4 linked regions of the Homo sapiens genome follow. The protein of the gene in region 4 interacts with the protein of the main gene of each other region in a pairwise test. Each region holds a gene or a part of one and is shown on either strand. Other genes may lie near its edges. The genes, in order: TVP23B, MTFR1, HIGD1C and SYT16.

Region 1 (7,866 bases), on a different chromosome or scaffold from region 4:
CAGTGAAAGAGCATGTGGTGTCAAGTTTGTTTTGTTTGTTTGTTTGTTTGTTTTGAGACGGAGTCTGGCTCTGTCGCCCAGGCTGGAGTGCAGTGGCGCGATCTCGGCTCACTGCAAGCTCCGCCTCCCAGGTTTATGCCATTCTCCTGCCTCAGCTTCCCGAGTAGCTGGGACTACAGGTGCCCGCCACCACCCCCGGCTAATTTGTTGTTTTTTAGTACAGACGGGGTTTCACCGTGTTAGCCAGGATGGTCTCGATCTCCTGACCTCGTGATCCACCCGCTTCGGCCTCCCAAAGTGCTGGGATTACAGGCGTGAGCCACCGCGCCCGGCCAAGTTTTCATTTTTTAAGGTAAGAGAAATTAAAGCACGTTTATATGTTGATGTGAGCAAACGTTTAAAAGGATTAAAAAACTGATGATACAAGAAAGAGAATTACTAGAACAATGCCTTCCAGTAGGCAAGAGGAGATGGAAACCAGGACACAGTAGACAGGAAGACCTAAGAATGGAGCACTAACAGTCCAATTATCATAAAAGAATATGAGACCCTGAGTAAACATGCAACTAGGCAGCTAGTGTGAAAATTGTCTTCCGACGGCTTCCATTTTCAGTGAAACAAGAAGCAACGTTACCAGCTGAGAGAGGATAAGAGAAGAAACGTTGAAGATTTGAGTTTTAATAGTTGCCTAAGGCGAGAGGGTGAAGGGGCTATGGAAATGTAGAATGACCGCCTGGCAGCACTAAGGGCTCGACTGAGGTTCACGTCACAAATTTATCAAGTGGGAACCGTCGGCCGGGCCTGGCGGCTCACGCCTGTAATCCTAGCACTTTGGAAGGCTGAGGCGGGTGGATCACCTGAGGTCAGGAGCTCAAGACCAGCCTGGTTAATATGGTGAAACCCCATCTCTACTAAAAATACAAAAATTAGCCGGGCGTGGTGGCAGGCGCCTGTAATCCCAGCTACTCTGGAGGGTGAGGCAGAAGAATCGCTTGAAGCCGGGAGGCAGAGGTTGCAGTGAGCCGAGATCACACCATTGTACTCCAGCCTGGGCAACAAGAGTGAAACTCCGTCTCATAAATGAATGAATGAATCAATCAATCAATCAATAAATAAATAAATAGTGGGAACAGTCAACATTGTTGTGTTTCTCCAGCCTCATCCGGCCTGGGCGCAGGTTCAAATGTCAGAAGCATGTGAACCTGAACAACTCCATCTTCAATAGGAGCTGGGTAAAATGAGGCTGAAACCTACTGGGCTGCATTCCCAGACAGGGCATTCTAAATCACAGGATGAGATGTGAGGTCGGCACAAAATACAGGTCATAAAGACCTTGCTGAAAAAACAGGTTGCAATAAAGGAGCCAGCCAAAACCCACCAAGACCAAGATGGCCACGAGAGTGACCACTGGTCGTCCTCACTACTAGACTCCCATCAGCGCCATGCCAGTTTACAAATGCCATGGCAACATCAGGAAGTTACTCTCTATGATCTAAAAGGGGAGGAATGAATAATCCACCCCTTGTTAACCATACCACTAAGAAATACCCATAAAAATGGGCCACCAGCAGCCCTCCAGGTTGCTCTATGGAGTAGCCACTCCTTTACTTTCTTAATAAACTTGCTTTCACTTTGCACTGTGGACTCACCCTGAATTCCTTCTTGCCTGATCCAAGACTTTTTTTGTTTTGTTTGAGACGGAGTCTCCCTCTGTAGCCAGGCTGGATGGAGTGCAGTGGCCCGCGGCTCACTGCAACCTCAGCCTCCCCAGTTCAAGCGATTCTCCTGCCTCAGCCTCCCGAGTAGCTGGGACTACAGGCGTGCACCATCACGCCCAACTAATTTTTGTATTTTTAGTAGAGACAGGGTTTCACCAAGTTGGCCAGGATGGTCTCGATCTCTTGACCTCATGATCCACCCACCTCGTCCTCCCAAAGTGCTGGGATTACAGGCCTGAGTCACCACGCCCGGCCAAGGACCCTCTTTTCGGGTCTGGATCGGGACACCTTTCCTGTAATACAGCTGAATTTAACCATTATTAGATTTTCTCCACTCAAGGCATCTCCTCATAAGCAGTCTTTCCTGACCATAAATCTTAGTTGTCCTATCCTCAGACACTTGTTATTTCATCACCCTGCCTTTGCAATTATCTGAAAATATCTTTGGTTATACAATTTATCGTGTCTCCCCACCCAACCCCCATCTCCTAGAACCCACTTCCCTAACCCAAAAATACGGGGCAAGAAACCTGTCTGTACTGGTCACAACCCTATCCCTGGGCCTACAACCGTGTCTGAGTCATAGTAATCCCTCAACAAATTTTGTGTGAACCGAAAGAAAAAAACACTTAAGACAATCTAAGTGACCATAAACAGTAGTTTTTTCTAAAAATATTATTAATCTTACGAGTCTCTGGTTGCCAACATGTGGACTACAATTAACTCTAAGAGCACAAAGGAGAGAATCACCAACAACATTAGTTTGGAAACAGCAATTTGAAAGCGAGGCTCTGGCGGTGTCGCCGATTCCTACAAAATAGCATCGCACCCCTGGGTGTCAGGAAGCTAAGAGGCCCGCAGGCCGCTCCTCCTCAACTCCACCCCGGCAATAAGGGTTGAGGAAAGAGAGACCCCCACTCGCGCTGGTTAACAATGGGCGTCCCCACAGCCGCAAGAAGTACTTGCTCTGCGCCGCACGGGTCACGCCGCCCCCAGCGGCCTCAGAACCCCCAGCAGCCCTCCTCAGACAACTACCCACAGCCCTCCACTCCCGGCCGCCCCGCTCCTCCTCGAGTTCGAGTAGCGGGCGCGGGGGACGCGGGCTCCAGTCCCACGGAACCTGCAGAGCCAGTCCCAGGAGCCGCCACCCTCCCAGCGAGCCCTCAGCCCCTCACCTGCTGCAACATGGCGGCCCTACGCCAGCCCTACTTCCGGGAGCCACGTCAGCGCAGCAGCGTACGGGTCCGGGTCGGAACTGAGGCGACCCGTCACCAAGGGCCAGCAGGGACCACTGTAAGAGCCTCAGTCCGGCCTCACTTCCGCTTTGAGGGAGCAAATCCAGGGGCGGGGCGAGCGGGGGCGGGGCGAGCGGCCCGGACACGGCGGAGGCGGAGCCTGGAGCAGGAGCGAAAGGGAAAGGTATTGGGGCCACAGTGGGCTCTAAGTGGAAAGCTTCATGGTCTGTTTTACGGAAGTATTTGCTGTCCACCCAATGCAAATTCTAAAGTCGTTCCCCCAGTGTCGCTGCCCCGAATGCAGGGGGGCGGGGTTTTATTGTATAATATAATTTTCTTTAAATATTTTACAAAGACTTACTCCTGTACAGTATTACTTTTGTACTTTAAATTGTAGAAGCAACTTTTTAAAATATGTTCTTGCAGAGAAGTAAAACGTTAAGAAAAACAAGGCAGGAGGACTCTAGAGTAACTAATGGACGGTATTATTATGGGAGGTATAAACTTAGACGCCAGGAGTTGAGACCTTGCGCCCTGGAGCTTAGGCGCCTGGGAACTCTATTGCCAATCATATCACCAACCTTTATGTACTTCTTTCATCAGTTGTAAAGTGGGGGTGATAATGGTTTCCTTACAGTGTAAGTATCTAGTAAATGGGAGACGTTATACTTACTACAGTTTTAAGTCCAGCCGCTCATGCTGTGATCTTGCCTGAACAAAGGATGTGAAATTAAGGGGCGTTAAGTCATCTTTGAAGCGGTGATGATGACAATATCCTATCTGTCTGGCCGAGTCAGACTGCTGTTGGCATAGTGGTATTTGCACGTGTCCTTAATTGAAGGGATTCTATTAAAATCACAAATTTTACGTGGCTGATTGCCAGTGCCATTTAAAACCTGATATTCTAATAATGAAAGGGGGAAAACACACACACGCGTTTCTAAAGGCAAGACATTTCGGCAGCACAATTGCATTCGTGCCCTTGGAGATGAAAAGCTAACAAATTTGGGGCCTGTACGTCCAGCCTGCCCATGGCAGGTTTTCAGTGGTCCACTCAGTGCTGTGGAGTTTTGTGTTGTTTTTCGTAGTTTTTGGTTTTTTAAGACATTGTGTTTGAATTCATTATCGTCTTTTAATTTTTAATAGCTAATTTTTAAAGCTAATTTTGTATTTTTAGTAGAAACGAGGTTTCACCACGATGGTCAGGCTGGTATCAAACTCCTGATCTCAGGTGAGCCACCCGCCTCAGTCTCCCAAAGTGCTGGGACTACAGGCGTGAGCCACCGCACCTGGTCAAGGCTTGAACTTTCTAATGGGCCATAGCTCTTGTAGTGGGCTGCACTCTTCTAAATTACCTGGTCCCTGCACCATAGTCCAAAGGTTTAAGCAGAAACCTCAATGCACTTGATGTTACTGGCCCTCTTTGTACAGAGGATAAATATGCTAATTCTCTTCCTTAGGAGTTAGCCCTGAGAAGGAAAAGCTCAATGTTGTCAAATGCAACAGGTCCACCCCACTGAGGGCTTCCCCTTTTAAATTCTTAATGGGTTTTATCAGGCTTCTGTGCAAAAATACCAGAAAACACCAATGCATGACCCTGATATAATCCCATAACTTCATTTGCCAGAAGAACTAATAGCACTAAATTGGTAGTGATGAATGGTATCTAATTTCCAGTGATCATCTCCCCATCCCCCATCAACGAAACTGGGCTTTCCTAATGCTCACTAAATTGTTTTCAGTGGGACTACAGATGCTAATCTCGCCCAACCTCCTTCTGTTTTCTTATTTTGATGATATCAAATATTTGGCTCAGAGGAAGATAACTGGGAGTTCCCACATTAATTACCAGGAAGAAACAGTCAAAAAAAAAAAAAAAAAGGCCAAATAGCAACATCCGCTTGGCTTTCTGTTTATTGTAAAACATTGTAATTTCCCAAGGCTGGTTTAGATAAATACATTTTGTCCAAGTTCAGGGGCCGCTGTTTTCCCTTGCTTCGTGAAATTATCAATAGGCAGGCCTTTGATCTTCCTGATCCATGCAGCTTTGCTGACTTTTCCTGGATCAACCACTCCAGTGGACTCCCTGGCCTGATATTCCTTCATCTTGGCTTCCTGGTGCTCCTTCTCCTCCTTCACGGTCAACAGCACGAACTCAGTGTTCACTCTAAAAGGATCAAGGGCTGTATAGATGCGAGGCCGTTCTTTCTTAAGAGACAGGGTGGCTGTGCCCACTTGTGGAGCTAGCATGCGGTTTGGTTTAATGACCTGCATACTGGTCAGGGGACCCGTACTGCACACAGCCCTTTCAATTGAACTGGTCACTTGGTCTCCACCCTTTAAGCTGCCAGAGAACCTGGAGCGGATAATCATGGGCTGGGGTATGGTGGACTGGACTCTAGGACTGTGCAAAGAGATCTTCAAGTTGGGCTGCAGTTTCTGGATTTCAAGGGGAATACTGGTTCGTTTCACATCTATAGGAGGATTGCTCAATCTCAACCGATCAACTGCACGTTGGATTGATTTTCCTTTGAAATTCAAGACCTTCCTTGGGTATGAAATTGAAGGTCCCCAGACATCAGTAATTTCTGTTTGGGGCCTACAGGGATAGGCAAATTCCCCGGAATTATGGGCGTGCTGCAGGGCGCTAACAGTCAGGAGGAATTGGTCAGGTGACATAGGGATTTTCCAAGACTTTTTCTTTGGGTGACTGGGCAGTTTTCCAGGAGTTTCCAATTGTCCTTGTTTTTGTGCTTTCTCCACATCATCTGCTTTTTCAAAAAAAAGAAAATTTTAAAAAATCGGCGTTCTATGAAAAATATTAAGTACGTATGCATTAAGTACTTGGGCATTCAAACTTCGAAGCACATTGAGGTCTTTGTTGCCCAACAGGTATGCCATCATACAGGCAGGCACCCTGAGTGGTATTAGAAATGCTGATACTAGAAACAATTTAATAAAACAAATTTTTTTGTTTGTTTGTTTTTGTTTTTGAGACGGAGTCTCGCTCTGTCACCCAGGCTGGAGTGCAGTGGCATGATCTCTGCTCACTGCAAGCTCTGCCTTCCGGGTTCACGCCGTTCTCCTGCCTCAGCCTCCCAAGTAGCTGAGACTACAGGCGTCCGCCACCATGCCTGGCTAATTTTTTGTATTTTTTTTAGTAGAGACAGGGTTTCACCGTGTTAGCCAGGATGGCCTCGATCTCCTGACCTCGTGATCCACCCGCCTCGGCCTCCCAAAGTGCTGGGATTACAGGCATGAGCCACCGCAGCCGGCCAATAAAACAAGTTTTTAATAAAATGCTAGTATTGAGTAAAGAGTATATTAGCCTCTAAGTGAGCATATTTTGAATGCAACAGATGTGATTTCAATGCTACACATATTTTTGAAAATGTGAAGTTGAGGCCGGGCGCGGTGGCTCACGCCTGTAATCCCCACACTTTGGGAGACCCAGGAGGGTGGATCACGAGGTCAGGAGATCCAGACCATCCTGGCTAACACGGTGAAACCCCGTCTCTACTAAAAATACAAAAAATTAGCCCGGCATGGCGGCGGGCGCCTGTAGTCCCAGCTACTCGGGAGGCTGAGGCAGGAGAATGGCATGAACCCAGGAGGCAGAGCTTGCAGTAAGCCAAGATCGCGCCACTGCACTCCAGCCTGGGCGACAGAGCAAGACTCAGTCTCAAAAAAAAAAAAAGAAAATGTGAAGTTGGGAATGACCTTCACATCTCATTTATGATTCACACAAAGCAGATCTTATAAATTTATAGTAGCATAACTATTTTTCAACAGTAATTATGTTGCAAAATTTGATCTTTACCTTATTAATCAAATTTGACTCCAAGTAATCTTGAATGTTGCCCAAAATAAAACCTGTCTTCAGGCTGGGTGCGGTGGCTCATGCCTGTAATCCCAGCACTTTGGGAGGCCTAGGTGGGTAGATCACCTGAGGTCGGGAGTTCGAGACCAGCCTGACCAACATGGAGAAAACCCGTCTGTACTAAAAATACAAAAAAATTAGCCGGGCGTGGTGGCAGGCGCCTGTAATCCTAGCTACTGAGGAGGCTGAGGCAGGAGAATCGCTTGAACTCAGGAGGCAGAGGTTGCGGTGAGCCGAGATCACGCCACTGCACTCCAGCCTGGGCAACAGAGTGAGACTCCATCTCAAAAAAAAAAAAAAAAACTGAGTGAAATCAAGATGTCAAAATCTTCCCTATTCTCCTTGCAAACTCAAAAAGAGAATTTTTCTCCTTTTATAAAAAAAGGAATTGTGATGAGCTCATTGTTTATTAATTTGTCTTTTTTCAAATGATAATGTATTGTGGATCTCTTTCCAAGTTAGTATATACAGATCCTCATCATACAATTTTTAGCTGTATATAATATTCCATACAATAGATTTTTTTATTACTTAGCCATTGCCCATTGATGGACATTTAGTTTGTTAATGGTCAACCTAGAAGAAAATGCGGACCCCATTTTTACTTATACAAGCAACTACAAAATGCCAGCTAACACCCAGAGTTGGCACAAATGCAGTGGGGTCTCTCATATATTGCAAGTAGGAGTGTAAATTGATACAGTATTTTTCAGGACAACCTTGGCAATATCTTTCTAGTTTTTGAATGCACTTATCCTTTGGCTTAGCAATTTCACTCGTAGGACTTTACCCTTCAGGTATACCTGTACAGGTACACTGACATAGGTATATACAAGGATGCCCATTGTTAGCGCAGCCCTCATAAAATAATTGTTTTCCCGTCAACTTCAAACCAGTCTCTGCACAGAGTTTGTTCCAAAGAAACACTACTATACTAGCCAAAAATATTTGAAAGACATTTTAAATTTTTACCAATGTCCTTAAAAAATAACAAAGGGACATCCCAGTCATGAGTCATGATGTCCAGAAACTT
Region 2 (7,000 bases), on a different chromosome or scaffold from region 4:
AGCCAAGACTGCATCCCCGCACTCCAGCCTGGGTGACAGAGTGAGACTCTGTCTCAAAAAAATAAAAAAAAAAGTTACATATTACATGATTCAATGTATGTAACATTCTTTAAATGATAAAATAGTTAAAATGAACAGATTAGTAGTTGCTAGCCATTAAGAAGGAGTTGAGGTTGGGGATGGAAGAGAAGTATGTGTGGCTATAACAGGGCAACTGGAGGATCTCTGTAGCATGGAAATGTCCTGCATCTTGACTTATCAACATCAATACCCTGCTGTGATATTGTACTATAGTTTTGCAGGATGTTACCATTGAAGGAGACTGAGTGAAAAGCATGGGGAATTTCTCTGTATTGTTTCTTATAAATATGCATGTGAAGAATCTACAATTATCTCAAAATAAAAAGTTTAAATAAAATAAACATCTTAAAAAAGAAAGGCTCTTTACCTGCTAATCCTGCAATCCCTGTGTTTATCTACTGCTATGTCCTTATTTCTATTTGTCATTCAAATCAAATTCCTTGTTTGCTCTTATTTTATTCTTATTTTATCCAGCTAATACTACTCAAATGAAATTACTCTTGCTGAAGTCAATGATAATCTTCCAACTGAAAAACAAAATTGAAACTTGCTAGTTTTTCTATTTACCCAGCCTCTAAGTATTTGACACTGATCACTACTCCTCTTCAATAAAAACTCTACCTCCTCTGCTTCCATAACAATACCCTCTACCAGGTCTTCTCCTGCCGCTTAGCTCTTTGGGTGATGGGTTGGGGTTGGGGAGGGTGATGGGGGAGGAGGCTTTTTCTTTCCTTTAACTTCAAAATGCTGGCTTCACTCAGGGTACAAATGCTCTTCACGTTCTATACATGCTTCTTGGGCACTCTCATATTCAGCCGTTCTATCTAAATGTTATAGAGTATAGGCCTTCCTTACCAATATCCATTCACATAAACTGTTTCTAGATCAAGGTGAATATCTCACAGAAAACTCAAACATAATATATTCCAGACTAGACTACCCTCTCTTATTACCCCCAGCCAAAACAATCTGTTTTCCTATATTCCTATACATTATAGCTAGGTGCGGTGGCTCACGCCTATAATCCCAGCACTCTGAGAAGTCAAGGCAGGTGGATCACCTGGGGTCAGGAGTTCAAGACCAGCCTGGCCAACGTGGTGAAACCCCGTCTCTACTAAAAATACAAAAATCAGCTGGGCATCATGGCAGCCACCTGGAATCCCAGCTACTCGGAAGGCTGAGGCAGGAGAATTGATAGAACCCGGGAGGTGGGGGTTGCAGTGAGCCCAGATCGCACCACTGCACTCCAGCCTCACTCGGGCAACCAAGTGAGGCTCCATCTCAAAAACAAAACAAAAAAAAAAATTGTTTCACCATCCTTATAATTATCCTACATGGAAACCTGAGAATTTAGGATAACTAGACTCTGACTACGTAGGCTCTTCCTTCGTTAATCTCCATATCTAATAAGTTTCTATGTCATTTTAATTCTTATGAATCTCACTTGGCTTTGAACCTCTTCTGCCAGTTTCTTAATTCAGTTAAATTCTGATCATCTCCTAGTTGGTCTATTTCTTGGTCTGGCTCTTTTCTATTCTTCATACTGTTTACATGTTGATTTTACTAGTGCTCAAATTTCTTCCATGGTTCCACACTGCTTTCAGGTTCTATATTGCTTTCCACAAACGTGAACTTTTCTATGTTTCTTAGAGTCACGTGTAAGACCTTCAAACCTCTACCTACTTCTCGTCCTCATCTCCCACAGCTTATCCTTCTTTTCTGCTCTCTAGTCTCATTGAGCCATCTGGCAGTTCCCAAACATGCCACAATGTCTCCTGGTTTTACCTTTAAACAAGTTCTTTACTCTTCCAGGAATACCAGCCTTCCATTTACTTGGCTCCCACTCAGCCCTCATGATGGAGCTCTAGCATTTCCTCCTGAGAAGTCTTGCTGAACATCTCTCATCCTGCAGTGACCATCTGTAATTACTTTGTAGACTTTACAGTATCAACTGATTTCCTTCTTAATCTCCTTTTGACTCAAAATTTTTAGGAAACATTCTCCAATTACACAAATTCTCTACTATGATCCAGATTGATCCCTTTGCCCCAATGAGACCATTATAATTACTGTACTTATCTAAAAATTAATGATCATTGTTTCTGGTCTCTTACATTAGAATGTAAACTGCTGAAGGACAAAGAATTCTGTCAATGAGGACTTAGGACATAATTATATGTCTCTAAAAACTTTATAAATACTAGTCAAGTCTTGAAAACGAACAGACTAGCCTAGGCAACATGGTGAAAACTCATCTCTACAAAAAAAGTAAAAAATAGGCTGGGCGTGGTGGCTCACGTCTGTAATCCCAGCACTTTAGGAGGGCAAGGCGGGTGGATCATCTGAGGTCAGGAGATCAAGACCAGCCTGGCTAACATGGCGAAACCCCATCTCTACTAAAAATACAAAAATTAGCTGGGTGTGGTGGTGCGTGCCTGTAGCCCCAGCTACTCAGGAAGCTGAGGCAGGAGAATCGCTTGAACCTGTGAGGTGGAGGTTGCAATGAGCCGAGATCACGCCACTGCACTGGAGCGTGGGTGACAGAACAAGACTCTATCTAAAAAAAAAAAAAAAAAAAAAGAATTAGCCAGGGTTGGTGGTGCATGCCTGTGATCCCAGCTACTTGGGAGGCTGAGGTGGGAGAATCACATGAGCCTGGGAGGTCAAGGCTGCAGTGAAGCAAGATCACACCACTGCACTCCAGCCTGAAAAACAGAACAAGACCCAATCTCAGAAAAAAAGGAAAATAAACAGAAAAGAAGACTGTTCAAGAAAAAGAAGAGGGTGCATTACTAGAGATAAAATTAGGCTATTAAAAATAAGTACTGCAAATAATATCATTCTTTAAAAAAATAGATATTGCATCTCAGTTCTGATAGCCTTCCAAACTAACCTTAGTCTTGCTGAACACTCTCCTTCTTCTTTGGCTACCCATCCAACATCAGCAAAAGACGCCACTGCATCCTCTCCTGGGTGGCTGGGACTCCATTCTGTTGCATGGCTGTTAATCTGTAAGTTATAAATAGGGAAAGTTCTTCACCAAAGATGGCACCAAAATGTTAAATTTTTTTTACTCACCTAAAGGAAAATCGTCAGCTCTGGTGTTAAAAACACATGAGTGGTTTCTAACTCTTCCACTGAAGGTCTCCATGATTAATAGTCATAATCATATTGTTGCCTAATAGTATATGACAATCTCAGAACTATAACTTTATTCAGTTTTCATTTTATAAGTTGATTTTTTTTTTTTTGAGACAAAGTCTAGCTCTGTCGCCCAGGCTGGAGTGCAGTGGCTCTATCTTTGGCTCACTGCAACCTCCGCCTCCCGGGTTCAAGCGATTCTTCTGCCTCAGCCTCCTGAGTAGCTGGGACTACAGGCACACGCCACCATGCCCAGCTAATTTTTGTGTTTTTAGTAGAGATGAGGTTTCACCATGTTGACCAGGCGGGTCTCGAACGCCTGACCTTGTGATCGGCCTGCCTCAGCCTCCCAAAGTGCTGGGATTACAGACGTGAGCCACTGTGCCCAGCCTATAAGTTGATTTTTTAAAAAACTATCCTAGAAAATTAAGAAAAATTTTTGAATCTAAGCATGAGAAACCACTTTTTTCTAAAGAGATTTTAAAAGGTATGTGTAGGCGGGGGGTATAAGAACAAGCAAACCGGGAAGTGGAGGTTGCGGTGAGCCGAGATCGTGCCACTATACTCCAGCCTGGGTGACAGAGCAAGACTCTGTCTCGGGGGTAAAAAAAAAAAAAAAGAACAAGCAAAAGACCAACTTGAGCTAAATCCAGGAATATTTTTAAATGGCTATTATATAGCTGTTTTGTTCAATGTTTTTATATATGTATATATTATAATGTTGAAAATGTTTTTTAAAACTCCTTAAATCCCCTAAATTTTAAGTAAAAGCATTAAAGAACAAAAGAACAAACAGCAGAACAGAATTCTCTACCTAAACTTAACATGGATGCAAACAGAATATTTTGAAATAAATACAAAAAAAAAAAGACAGCCAGGTGCAGTGGTTCCTGCCTACAGTCCCAGTACTTTGGGAGGCCAAGGCAGGCGGATCACTTGAGGTCAGGAGTTCGAAACCAGCTTGGCCAACATGGTGAAACCCCATCTCTACTGAAAATACAAAAAAATTAGCCAGGCGTGGTAGCACACACCTGTAATCCTAGCTACTCAGGAGGCTGAGGTGGGAGGATTACTTGAACCCGGGAGGCGGCAGTTGCAGTGAGCCAAGATTGCACCACTGCACTCCAGCCTGGGTGACAGGGTGAGACAGTCTCAAAAAGAAAAAGAAAAGACAAGCAGGATATCTTGAAATTTATCTTGAAAAACAAAAAAGATAACTGAGTTAAATTTAGATTTTGTTATACATATAATAATGCCTGAGTCAAAAAGTCAACGAATAATAATTTTTAAATAAAGTTATCAGATTAATACTTACTAAAAGTATGAGTGAGGTTTAAATAAAAAAGAAAAATAATCAATCCACACTTTTTAATTAAGGAAAAAATGAAAAGGCCAAAGAGATTCAGTCATTAATATGTTTATCAAAAAGGTTACCCTTGGGACTCATGCATTGTTCAAACCTCCTCAATGCCATCATTGCCAAGTCAAACTTTTGGAAGATATACTTAAATAATGCCTCTTCCTTAAACACAAAATATATCATGTGACACATAATACTAACATTGTTGAAAGTTTAAAATATCTTTAATGTAATATTATGAATAAAACTTTAAACATATCAGTTGTTGGTATGTGTACTCTCCTGGTATAATTATCTAATCAACTTAATAAAGTAGCATTAAAAATAACATTTTAAGGGCTGGGCGTGGTGGCAGGCGCCTGTAACCCGAGCCACTAGGGTGGCTGAGGCATGAGAATCACTTCAACATGGGAGGTAGAGGTTGCAGTGAGCTGAGATTGCGCTACTGCAATCCAGCCTGGGCGACAGAGCAAGACTCGGTCACAAAAAAAAACCAAAATCCAAAAACATGTTAACAATAAAGTACTAAGAACATCGAGTATCTAAAGCACCTTAAATTCAGCCAGGTGCGGTGGCTCACGCCTGTAATCCTGGCACTTTGGGAGGACAAGATGGCGGATGGCTTGAGGCCCCAGGAGCTTGAGACGAGCCTGGGCAACATGGCAAAACACCTGTCTCTACTAAAAATACAAAATAATTAGCTAGGCATGGTGGCATGCACCTGTAGTCACAGCTACTTGGGAGGCTGAGGTGGGAGAATCATTTGAACCCAGGAGGCAGAGGCTGCAGTGAGGCATGATCGCACCACCACACTCCAGCCCGGGCAACAGAGTGAGACTCTGTCTCAAAAAATAGAAATTTTAAAATCTTGCCTTCCACAAAAACAAAAACAAATAAACCTAATAATGAAATTATGATAAAAAGGCTTTCAAAATACCAATTTGCATGTAGTGGAAGTAATTTGTAGTCAGATGAGGAAAAAAGCATGAACTTCAGTAAGTAAATTCTCAAGGTATAAGATCAAAGGGAAGATTTTTGTACTTCCCTTTGTAGTTCAGAAACTTATCCAAACAGATATTCAGCAAATGGGTATCTCATACAACTTAAATAACACAACTGGGTATCATATTTGATCTCAAGAGTTGAGAAATCAGGTAATGTTCTGTTCCTACCCATTACTGAAAACAGAATGGTATCCTGATATTCCCATAACACTGTAATAAGGAGATTCTAAATGGGTTATGTGGCTATCCTTCAGCAGGAATGTTCCCCAAGCCCTGTGAGGCTCCTAGCAGAGATGGTATTTAATGGGCTGTTTTGTATAAGTGTTAGACAAATCCTAAGACTAAAATCTGAATGGTGCCTTCCTAAGGTGCTATTTCATGAGATGATCAATCTGATCATGACCCTTTGTTTAGAAATAAAAATTCTGTTCCAATATAATGACTAGTTGGTAGAAAGTTAGGCATATTTAAGACAAAGACTTCTTACTTTCCTACAGAAGTTACAAAAATAGCTGTTTTCTTCTAAAACATCTATAAAAGGAAACAAAGTGTGGGGAGGAGGGAAGAAAAAAAGAAAAACAAAAAAACAAAGTACTACTTTTCTTTTTTGTTGTTGTTGAGACCAGGTCTCACTCTGTCACTCAGGTTGGAGTGCAGTGGTACCATCTCGGCTCACTGCAACCTCCCGCCTCCCAAGTTCAAGCAATTCACCTGCGTAAGCCTCCAGAATTACTGGCACACACCACGACACCTGGCTCATTTTTTGTATTTTTGGTAGAGATGGGGGGTATCGCCATGTTGCCCAGGCTGGTCTCAAATTCCTGGGCTCGGGGGTTCCACCTGCCTCAGCCTCCCAAAGTGCTGGGATTATAGGTATGCACCACCACGCCCAGCCAGTACTACTTTTCTAAGAATACATATTCAAAGAAATATAAGTTAACTCATTTTCAGGATATCATAAATAGTAATTAAGGATTAAACACATTTCTCAATTTTACATCTATAAAATTAAATAATGCCTCCATAAAATTAATATGTTAAACATAAAATGCCAGCTTTTGCACAAACTTTAAAAAAACAAAACAACAAGATACAACAAACTATTCCACGGACTTAATTTGGATCTTACTTAAGCCTTAATTAGGCAAATGATACCAAGTCCATAATATGTGCTCAATAAGATGAAAATGTTAATGATGCTCTCAAGAACCAATTCCAAAACTGATAAGATGTATGTCATTTGTACTTGAAATCCTGTCCCACAAAACAAAATAGTTTTGGCATTTAAGTCAAACTCATTCAAAAGACAAAATAAAACTAGAAGAAAATCTTCTTTATAAAAGGCCGTTTCAGGTGTTGGTGAGGGAAGCATTCATTGAGTGACACAGGCATGGGATGCAAAGGACAATTTCCA
Region 3 (7,515 bases), on a different chromosome or scaffold from region 4:
CCTATTTAGAAGTTTTTATGGAATTAATATTTTTGCAAACTTATGTCAGTCTGATTTAAGTAAACTATTTTAATAGTTTCCAGACAAAATGAACACAAGGAAACAGGCATGGCTGCAGTATACATCCATGGAGAAGAAAGAGAAAGCTCAGACTTCAAAACATAATATTGGTGCTTAGGTTTTGTGGGGTTTTTTAAAGTCCACATACACATAATACTTGTTGAAAATGTAAACATACTAAATATGTGTGGGGAAAGGATAAAGAGGCTAAGGGTCCAGATTATTAGGTGATCTAATTATAGTATCTCTCTTTTTTATTTTTTGAGATGGAGTCTCGCTCTGCACCCAACCTCTACCTCCCGGGTTCAAGTGATTCTGGTGCCTCAGCCTCCTGAGTAGCTGGGATTACAGGTGTGTGCCACAATGCCCAGCCAACTTTTTGTATTTTTAGTAGAGATGGGGTTTCACCCTATTGGCCAGGCTGGTCTTGAATTCCTGACCTCAAGTGATCCACCTGCCTCGGCCTCTCAAAGTGCTGGGATTACAGGAGTGAGCCACTGTGCCCGGCCTAATTATAGTATCACTTCTTTAGTCCAGAATTTATTTTGCCATCAAACTCAACACCTGGAGCACACCAAGAAGCCAGCACAGAGGGCCACTGAGCAGCCAAAATGACCACTCCAAAGTTCATGCTCACAAGTGTTCAGATAGATCCAGGCTTTTACTCAGAGCTTTCCTCTGAATTGACCCACAGTTCTTTCAAGCTTGGTTATCTAGCTTCTGGTGCTACAGAGCATTAAAAACATTAGATGCAGAAGTTTTTGGTTTTTTGTTTATTTGTTTGTTTGTTTTTGAGACAGGGTCTCACTATGTCACCCAGGCTGAAGTGCAGTGGTGTGATCTTGGCTCACCGCAACCTGCACCTCCTGAGCTCAAGCAATCCTCCCACCTCGGCCTCCCAAAGCGCTGGGATTACAGGCATGAGCCACCGTGCCCGGCCTAGAAGCAGAAGTTTTTAATGTGCCCAATAGTAAGATAGAAACAGAAAAATCTATAAACAGAAGATGTAAGAACTTAAAGTTTAGATTACTTACAAGACAAAGAGACATATGCATCTCAATAGTCCCTAATAGGCTTTAAATATAATAAACTGATGCTGCTGTTGATGGTCCTGAGTTATGACTGAAATGTTAATATTCATTCAATCTATTCCATTTGACTGGCTAGGAACTAATAATTTTAGGTAGACTTCTAATGAAATGGATAAAATAGAATAAAATTTGATGCCTCAAATAACAGCTAACATTTACTGGGGGCTTACCATGTATTAGGAACTATTCTGAAAGTTCAACACATGCTTAGAGGAGGTTAGCTTCAATTATCTGAAAAAATTCAATTATAAGAAACATTTCAATCCGCAAAGGCACTGGGTAAGGCATCATTGTGTTATTACAGTTTTCTGCATCCAGTCAAGGCTTGTACTTACCTATAGGGACAAAGGGGGAGTCTCTAGATTTCCTGATTAGTCGGGATAATTGGCCTTCATCCTCATCTGCTGACCACTGGTTATCTGAAGACATTTTTTTCTCTAGTAACAATAGGATATAAATGTGGTTGCCGTGAATCATTAAAAATAATTTGTTTTTCCTCTCCCATCATACTCTTGATTATGTGTTTTTTTGTTTTCATTTGTTTGATAAGCCTATCTGCTCAACTGAAACAATTGTCTTTCCTTCACACTTTTCACTACCGAATTTTTTCATTTTGCAGGGGAAGGGGATAAGAAAAAAATACATAGAGGAAATGATAATCAGATTTCATGAATACAGAGTAAAAACACAGATCATAATGCTGTTATTCAGTCTCCTTTCCACTGCTCAGCATTTGAGATCACTGGGAACCTCAGGACTTCTTCCACAAGCACTGTATTTGAAGAACACATTTTCTTTTTAAAGTATCATTTTAAAGAAGTATGGCAGTGCCAACATAGGCAAAAATACTTCCAGATTTACAGGTATTGGGAGAATGATCACTTCAACTCTGCAGAATGTGCAGGGCATTATAAAGTCATTCAGATATTTACCAAGCACCTACTGTGTGCCAGTTGCTATGCTAGACAATGGATTCCTTGTCTAGCCTGGCTTGTCTACATAGGATGAATGAAGAAACTTGCAAAAGCAACTATAATCACAACAGATTTAGCAGCGCCTGAGTCTGTTCCCTGTGCAGCTTATTGTGTTCACCCCAGAATTCAAATACAGCGGCTTCATCCTATGAATGAGACTTCATCAGAAAACTTAAGCGTAAGAAGCACAATACCTGTGGCACACCCCGCCACCTGCTGTCTGTCTCCTGTTGTTCCTTCAGCAAGAGGCTGTAGATCAGAACAGGTGTTTGTTGTAAGGCCAGGACACGATGTGCAATTTCCAACTAATTGATAATGGGAAAGCCCAGAAACACGCCCCAGGGGACTGGGGGAGTGGTCGGCTGGTATTGGCCAAGATTTCCAGCACCCTGCTAGAAACTCACCAGTAGCAGCCTGGGCCACAAACTAGGCTTTTGAAGCCAACATTAAGAAAAACATGAAGGCTTTGGAAGAAGATGCATTTGCTTAAGTCTGCCTTCACAAGGGAGCTCCTGACTTCCCTCTGTGACTGTTGAGTCTTAGTACCTGACTCCTGGGCCCAAAATTGAGGGGAAAGAGGGCACAGGGTCACAACACTGGGCTTGGAGGGGAAGGGGAGAAGATAGCCATCAGAGGCCAGGATTCTTGCCATCCTTCGGAAACACGCCCTAGCCAGAGGAGGTGCGCTCCCTGCAGTTGGAATCTCCGGCTGAGGCGATGAGAGCCCGCCGGGCTCACCTGGCGGTAAGGCCATCGCAGGTGCGCCTCCTGCAAAGCCTCGAGCTGCACACGCGCCCAGGGGAAAGACGTGACGTTGCTGCACCTGTGGCTAGTCCCTGCGCCTGTGTGTGAGACCTGAGTGGGGCTGTGGAGACCCGAGAGGCTGTGGCTCTTGAGGTGGGTCGGTGGTGGACGTGGCCTTTGCTTCTGTTCTGACCTTGTAGCCTTGGGGCCCCTTGAGACCTTGGAGAACACCTTGCTCACCGCCTCCCTCCGACTGCAGCCATGTGGACCTAGAGATGAGGGCAGAGGATCAGGTAGCGTTCATGGTTTTTCCCTTGTAACTTAATGTTTAAATAATTTCAGACTTATAGAAAAGTCCCCAGAATAGTACAAAGAACTGTGTGTCTGGTACCCGCATTTTCCTTTATTAACATGTTTCTTTCTTTAAAAAATATTTTTGGCGAACCACCTGACAGTAGCAGACTTATGCCTTTTCTTCCATATACTTTTGTATGCATTTGGGGCATTCTTTTATTATATAACCATAGTACAGTGTTCAAAATCAGAAACTTAACATTGATATAATTCTGTTTTTCAATCTAAAGATTTTATTCATATTCACCAGTTGTCCCAATTATGTCCTTAATAGCAAAAAAAAAAAAAAAAAAAAATTTCTGGTCTAGCATCCAATTAGGATCATATATTGCATTTAGTTGTCCTGTTTCTTTAGTCTCCTTTAGTCTGAAACACCTTCCTAATCATCTTTGTCTGTCTTGACCTTGATTTTTTTTTCTTTTTTTTTTTTTTTGAGATGGAGTTTCGCTCTTGTCACCCTGGCTGGAGTGTGATGGCGCAATCTTGGCTCACTGCAACCTCTGTCTCCTTGGTTCAAGCAATTCTCCTGCCTCAGCCTCCCGAGTAGCTAGGACTATAGAAGCGCCACACCACGCCCGGCTAATTTTTTTGTATTTTTAGTAGAGATTTTGTTTCACAATGTTGGTCGGGCTGGTCTCAAACCCCTGATCTCAGGTGATCCACCCACCTTGGCCTCCCAAAAGTGCTGAAATTACAGGTGTGAGCCACCGCGCCCAGCCGACCTTGATGTTTTGCCAGTTATTTTGTAGGATGCCTCTCAATCTAATCCTGTGTTCCCGTCCCCTCCCCCAACTCATGTTTTCTCACTAGATTGAGGTCATACATTTTGGGCAGAATATGACAAAAATGATGTTGTGCTCTTCTTAGTGTGAAATATCAGGAGACACAGAAAGTTGAATTGCCTGGTGGTAGTTAACTTTGATCCAGTGTGGTGCTGACAAATGTTTAACAACTCAACTGGCTCTGGAGGGGGAGATATTGCCCTGTTCTGTGGCATTTGCCATTGCCCCATTCTGTGTTGTAAATATTCCCACCATGCCCAATTTCTAAATAGAGTCTGTCATCACGGAACACAAAGTTGGGAAATGTCCCTTTCCTGGGTTGGTAGGAATGGGCTCTAGCACACCACTGCTTTCATCATGTGGATTAACGTGGTGTCTGCCTGGTTCTCCACTGTGGTTACTTTTTTTTCTCCCTTTTAATTAATAAGTAGTTTCTGAACAGGTACTTTAATATTATACAAATATCCTGTTATTTGTCAGACTTTTACCCATTAATTTCAGTGTCTGTTGATGATCCTTGCTTGAATCCATTAATTTTAGTTTGCTAAATGGTGGTTTTTCTAAATATATCACCTTAAAAAAAAACTTATGGCCGGGCGCGGTGGCTCATGCCTGTAATCCCAGCACTTTGGGAAGCCAAGCAAGGCAGGTGGATCACCTGAAGTCAAGAGTTCAAGACCAGCCGGGCTAACATGGTGAAACCTCATCTCTACTAAAAATACAAAAAAAATTAGCTGGGCGTGGTGGCAGGCGCCTGTAGTCCCAGCTACTCGGGAGGCTGAGGCAGGAGAATGGCATGAATCTGGGAGGCGGAGGTTGCACTGAGCTGAGATGGCACCACTGCACTCCAGCCTGGGTGACAGAATGAGACTCCATCTCAAAAAAAAAAAAAAAAAAAAAAAATTAGCTGGGCATGATGGTGCGTGCCTGTAATCCCAGCTACTTGGGGAGGCTGAGGCAGGAGAATTGCTTGAACTCAGGAGGTGGAGGTTGCAACGAGCCAAGATTGCGCCACTGCACTCAGTCTGGGTGACAGAGGGAAATTCCATCTCAAAAACAAACAACCATTTATTAGTAGGCATTCTAATGAGGAATAGCTTTTCTTTCTTCTCTATTTAATCTTTTATCAGTTTGGACTCTTGCATTCCTATTTTATTCAGTGGCTTATAATCCATCACTATGATTATTTTTATTTTATTTTATTTTAAAATAACTGGTTTTTGCTTTATTCTGTAGTTTACATGGGCCAACCTCAAACTCCATGCTTGATTTTTCTCTTCTGCCTTTGTTATTCATTCAATATCTGTATCAGCAGAGACTGTTTCTCCCAGCAGCACATGTAGTTTGATCCTCATCTAGGTTAAGTAGGCCCTTGAAGACGCTGGCCCATCAGCACTGGTACCTGGACCCTCCCATTTGACTGCACCCATGTCTGTTTACACTGGGGCTGTGCCTTGGTCCTGTCACCCGTGAGGTGTCCTTAAGGCTGGAATGCCAAATAGGCTCCAGGTGATGGGCTAACTCTGAGTAAATACAAGAGGCTGCTTGGAGCCCAGAGATGAGGGTTATGAGGCAGACTGTGTCTGGGTTCCATTACAAAGAAACCGTGATTGATTATAAATACCTGCCCTGGCAATACACATTAGAAGTGTCTGGAAGTGGGGTTTTGGGGGAATGAGCTCAGAAAGGGACAAGGTGTATGTTCCATTCCTGCCTTGGGTGGTGGTTCTGCTACCTAGGCTATGTTGTCTCACTGCTCACGCCTTAATCCCAGCACTTTGGGAGGCTAAGGCAGGCCAATCACTTGAGGCCAGGAGTTTGAGACCAGCCTGATCAACATGGTGAAACCCTGTCTCTACTAAAAATACAAAGATTAGCCAGGTGAGGTGGCACATGCCTGTAATCGCAGCTACTGAGGAGGCTGAGGCAGGAGAATAGCTTGAACCTGGGAGACGAAGGTTGCAGTGAGCTGAGGTCACTCCACTGCATTCCAGCCTGGACGACAGAGTGAGACTCCATCTCAAAAAAAAAAAAAAAAAAAAAAAAAGAAGCATTCAAAGAATAATGAGACATGTCAATAGACAACAGGAGCCAGCTTAAAGGGGTTTCCAATAGCGAAATCTGGGACAATTTGATCATTAGAATAACCAGGGCAGTCTGCCTACCAAACTGCGGCGGGTGCCGTGACAGCCTCTGAGCAGGTCCAGAAGGGACCCCTTTAGCTGAAAGGCATTGCAGAGCTCAGTGTGATCAAGCAGAAGAAGAAAAAGAAGGACAAAGGCAAGGCAAATTTCCTGAAAGCCATGGCAATGAGCAAAAAGAACAAGGGGGAGAAGCGACACAGCCTGGACAAGTGGACCCCAGCCCAGATGGCCTTAGAAAGATGCAAGAGAAGTGTCAAATGGAAAGGATCCTGAAGAAAGCATCCGAAATCTACAAGCAGAGAGTGGAGGACTTCACATTCTAGGGATCTTTTCTTCATTCTGTTTTATAGCTGCATAGTCCTCCACTGTGTGGGTATAGCATAGTTTAAATGCTCTCCTAGATGTGAGTGAGCATGTAGGCTGGAGACATTACAGCAAACAATGCTGCAAGGAATAACCTCGTGCATATGTGTTGTCTCCTCCTCCTCCTCCTCCTCCCCTCCCCCTCCCCCCCTCCCCCCCTCCCCCCTCCCCCTCCCCCTCCCCTCCCCCTCCCCTCCCCCCTCCTCCTCGCTCTGTCGCCAGGCTGGAGTGCAGTGGTGCAATCTCAGCTCACTGCAACCTCCATCTCCTGGGTTCCAGCGATTCTCCTGCCTCAGCCTCCCAAGTAGCTGGAAGGAACTACAGGCACATGCCACCATGCCCAGATAATTTTTGTATTTTTAGTAGAGACAGGGTTTCACCACGTTGGTCAGGATGGTCTCAATCTCTTGACCTCATGATCCACCCTCCTCGGCCTCCCAAAGTGCTGGGATTACAGGCATGAGTCACTGCACCCGGCGGTGTTTTTATATTATTGAAGGTATATTTTCAGGGTAAATTCCCAGAAGTGGAATTGCTGGGTCAAAGGAAAATAAAGTTTAGTTTTTTAGATATTGCCAGATTTCCCTACAAGGTTTTAATATATTGGCATTCCCACCAGCAATCTACAGAAGTGTCTCTTTCTCCACAGCCTGCCCAACAGAATGTGTTGTCAGGCTTTAGAAGTTTTCACCAATCTGATGTGTAAGAAATGGTACCTTACAGCAGTTTTGATGAGCATTTCTTGTATTATGAGTGAAATTGAACATATTTTCATGTGTATAATGGTCATTTTGCATATTCAATAACTTATTTGTTAGGTTTCATAATTTTAAAGTTGTGAAGAGATTGGGGGAGGATTAGAAGATATGCTTAGAGTCATCAAAGGATTCTGAGTCAAGTGATCATGTAGGGAAGGTTCCAGAAATAGAAATTATAATTTTAGCATGGGGAGATGTGTCAGAGACAAATGTGAGCTATTCTATAAAATGCAGCCTAATTTTCT
Region 4 (3,395 bases):
TCCCAAATTTAGTGACTCTGTAGTGTCTTTTGTTGAGCAATGAGTTAAATACCTGTCGATAAAAAGTGTTAATTATGTTATTACTGATTCATGATAGAAAATCACCTTCTGTCGCTAGTTTATATGACTTTACATTTACCACTCCTGCCAAGAGAAAGGAAGCTTTGTGATTGTGCCCCGTCATAGTTAATTGTACAAATCAATTAAAAATGGTATGTAAGCATCTGGCTCACACAGCAGCTCTGAATTCTGAATGAAAAGATAACCCATGCTAATGTATATGTTGCATGAACAAGTAGATGGGTGTTGGAAAGAAAACACTGATAGTCACTCTGGGTGAAGGGGGAGGCCTGGCCAATGATTTGTATCTGAGAAACATTTTGAGATTATTTATATGTCTTCTGACTGCCCTTTGCTTTGTAGCTACAGCAACTTGCAGAACCTGGCATTATTGCAGAGATGAAGGTATAGTTGTATAAAGAATATTGGATTAAAGTTGATGAGGCCTGTGTTCTGATATCAAATCTTCCACTAATGAGCTCTAAAATGAATATCAAGTCACAATTTTTTCAAGCCTTCATTGTTGCATCTATCAGATGGGAATAGTAATACTCATTTTACCTATTTTTACCAGGTGGTTGTAGGAACAGGATTCATTCATTCCTTCATTAATATAATGAACACTTTGAGACCCCACTATATAACAGGGCCATACATATGACAAGGTGATAGATGGAAAGACGTTTTGCAGAATTTTTGAAGACTTGCAATGTTTTTGAAGACTACAGGATAGTTTGTGATTTTTATATTAAGGTCGTATCAACTCTTTATGTCAATATATCAAAGTAATTGACACTTTTAGAGCTCTGCCAATCAGTGGGCCATATTCATAGAATGTCAGTAATCTGTCTGAATACAAGTTATAGTTGGTCTTTAGCTGTTCTGTCTCTGAGGAGCTAGAAATAAAATATTAGGTTCTAATTTTTTTTTGTTCAAACACTGATCATGTAACAAACTGCAAATCCATGTTTTCAGCAGGTTCGCCAACCTTTGAGTTGAATGCAGACCTTTCTTTAGAACAACCTAACTTTGAGTACAGGCAAAGTATTAAATGGAATAGCTTTTCCTCCCCTACAAAGTGGATTTGAATACAGTCCTTAGAAAAATTCTTCCCCTGCCAAAAAAGGTCCTTCAATCTCCTTTATTATTTTTCTTTTGAAGAATCAAACTTGTCCATCTCTCCCCTCCCAAGTGACTTTCCTCACTCATGTAATCATTTTCTTCATAAATGCCCTTTTACTATCCCACAGAAAAAGTAAAGATTTAAAAAATCATTTTTAAGGTACATCCAAGATTTCATAGCAATATTTTATTTGTGTTCACAGTGCAAGATAAATCTGACTTTCTCAATATTTTTGGTCTTCATATGGCATCTGAAACAGTTGTTCACATTCACACATTTATGTTTCACCATATGCATACTGTGTACAGCTCTGTTGTTCTAAAATATTTTATTGGTTTTCCTTTATATCTCAACTTTTGATGGGTGTCCTTGAAGAACTTTCATGAAAAAAATGTAAATGTGAATGATTCATTCATTTTGAACATATGTAACTATTTTAGGAGATTTTCAGGAGATTTTACCCTACATGGAGTACACTGTTCTTAGCAGGGAATGTGCTTTATATTACTATTCTACTCACAGCTGGATGCTGCAGATGTATTAACATTGTAAACATGTACTTTTTCTATTCTATGCTTACTTTAATACATTATTTATATGTGCTAGACTGTGCTGAGTTTTGGTGGTTGTCAAAGGCAGTCAGTAATTTTATAAATTTCACTTTTGTGGATAGTTAAGTATAACATGGTTTAGTATAAAATCTGGTCTTCCTCTAGATTTCTAAGTCACTAGAAGAATTTCTTGGCAAATTGATTGTTCAAGGCCAGTTTTGTTAGTTGTAAGGTGGAAGCCACCCCAATCCTCTCCCAGTGTTTCATAGGCATTTTCAGACCTGGATGCTATTATAGTTCCTCCTCTAGTTTTCCAGTAGAGAATTCGTATGTGGTCCAGAGGTTCAAGAGAGAGAGAGAAAAAATTTCTCCTCAAAAGAATTGAACCCTTACTTTAGAAACTTCTGACAATCTTCAGAACATTCCATGTGGGTGTCCTTGTGTTTCTCATAGTATGACTTATTGATTCATGGTGTCTCTTATTAAAGAAGCATGAATGTATCACTAGCTGTTACCAGAACAAACAGCTGTAGAATGTAATGACCCATCCTATTTCTAAATTTACTTCTATCAGTGGATAATTTGTGTATAGGAAAAGGTGTGGAAATTTTTTAATTGTTAAAAACTGGAATACCTTTCTACCTTTTGTAGTCTTTAAGATTTCATAATGATGGTTTTAATGTATTACTATCTTACTATTATGTATTGTGTTTAAACAAGACCAATCAGTGAAATATTGAATGTCAATACTTTTTGTTAGAAATGCCCTCTGAAAATGTTAGAAAATGTAAAACTTTACCTGTGACAAGGAATAAATTCATGATTAGAAGAATTATACTGTTTTTCTTGTGCAAATAATACTTAAGGCAGATGTTCAGTCTCACAGTGATGTTGGAAAGCATATTTTATGCAGTCTAAACACTATTTCTGTATTAGATATTTAAATGCATGAGGATAAATTCTAATTGCTTTTTGTTTAAAACAGAAACATAGAAGAAGCATTAGCCCCAGTTTGTATAAAATGTCTGCTGCAACTGAATTCATGATAGTTCATGAAAACTGAAAATCATTCCAATTTTGTAAAACTGCTGCTACTGGTTTTATCAATAAAGTTTTAGCAGATGGCTTATATGTACATGTGTGAAAATTTTTTATGTTAAAAAAAGATACAGTTTTGCAGCATCAACATGCAAATTTTATGGGCCTGAATGATACTGCTTATTTTAGTATATACAAAAACCATTAACTTCAAAACCATACCAACTGCAGACATATATTTTAGAACTATAAGCATTACATGTATGATCCATACAGTTTATTTGGTTTCAGGGTGCTGTAGGCTTTTATGGTGAACACATATACAAATCAACATATACCAGTTCAAATGCTGACTTGAAGAACATCAGGTAAGGAGCTATATAAATGTAAGGATCACCTGAATTAATTAAATTGCATCTAAAGGGGATTCTGAGAAGGCAAACTGCAAAGTGTAGGTGTTCATGTACAAAAGTGTATGTAATTCCTCATTAGAGAAGCTCTTGTCCAGAACACTTTCCCCTCTATGAATACCCAGTTCTCAAAAGTTAACAAGGCTCAGATGCAACAAGCTAGAAGTAGAGGGAGCTGAGTTATTATATTCGGACACCTACATAGCACTCAAA

Evidence for each region.
Region 1: the proteins of SYT16 (region 4) and TVP23B interact in binary tests that used the Homo sapiens proteins (3 or more experiments, as listed by UniProt).
Region 2: the proteins of SYT16 (region 4) and MTFR1 interact in binary tests that used the Homo sapiens proteins (3 or more experiments, as listed by UniProt).
Region 3: the proteins of SYT16 (region 4) and HIGD1C interact in binary tests that used the Homo sapiens proteins (3 or more experiments, as listed by UniProt).

What each region holds. Positions count from the first base shown.
Region 1 is NC_000017.11:18,776,333-18,784,198, reverse strand, and holds the start of TVP23B (Golgi apparatus membrane protein TVP23 homolog B), read right to left. Parts: upstream 3,017-7,866; 5' UTR 2,906-3,016; coding exon 2,894-2,905; intron 2,886-2,893; exon of another isoform or gene 1,650-2,885; intron 1-1,649. Other genes in the region: FBXW10 (F-box/WD repeat-containing protein 10), read right to left, coding at 4,901-5,724.
Region 2 is NC_000008.11:65,689,734-65,696,733, reverse strand, and holds part of MTFR1 (mitochondrial fission regulator 1 isoform 1 precursor), read right to left. Parts: intron 3,091-7,000; coding exon 2,975-3,090; intron 1-2,974. UniProt on the Homo sapiens protein: May play a role in mitochondrial aerobic respiration. May also regulate mitochondrial organization and fission.
Region 3 is NC_000012.12:50,948,064-50,955,578, reverse strand, and holds the start of HIGD1C (HIG1 domain family member 1C), read right to left. Parts: upstream 3,036-7,515; 5' UTR 2,880-3,035; coding exon of another isoform or gene 2,864-2,879; exon of another isoform or gene 2,375-2,863; coding exon of another isoform or gene 2,320-2,374; exon of another isoform or gene 1,771-2,319; intron 1,589-1,770; coding exon of another isoform or gene 1,581-1,588; coding exon 1,487-1,580; intron 1-1,486.
Region 4 is NC_000014.9:62,109,686-62,113,080, forward strand, and holds the end of SYT16 (synaptotagmin-16), read left to right. Parts: 3' UTR 1-2,865; downstream 2,866-3,395. UniProt on the Homo sapiens protein: May be involved in the trafficking and exocytosis of secretory vesicles in non-neuronal tissues. Is Ca(2+)-independent.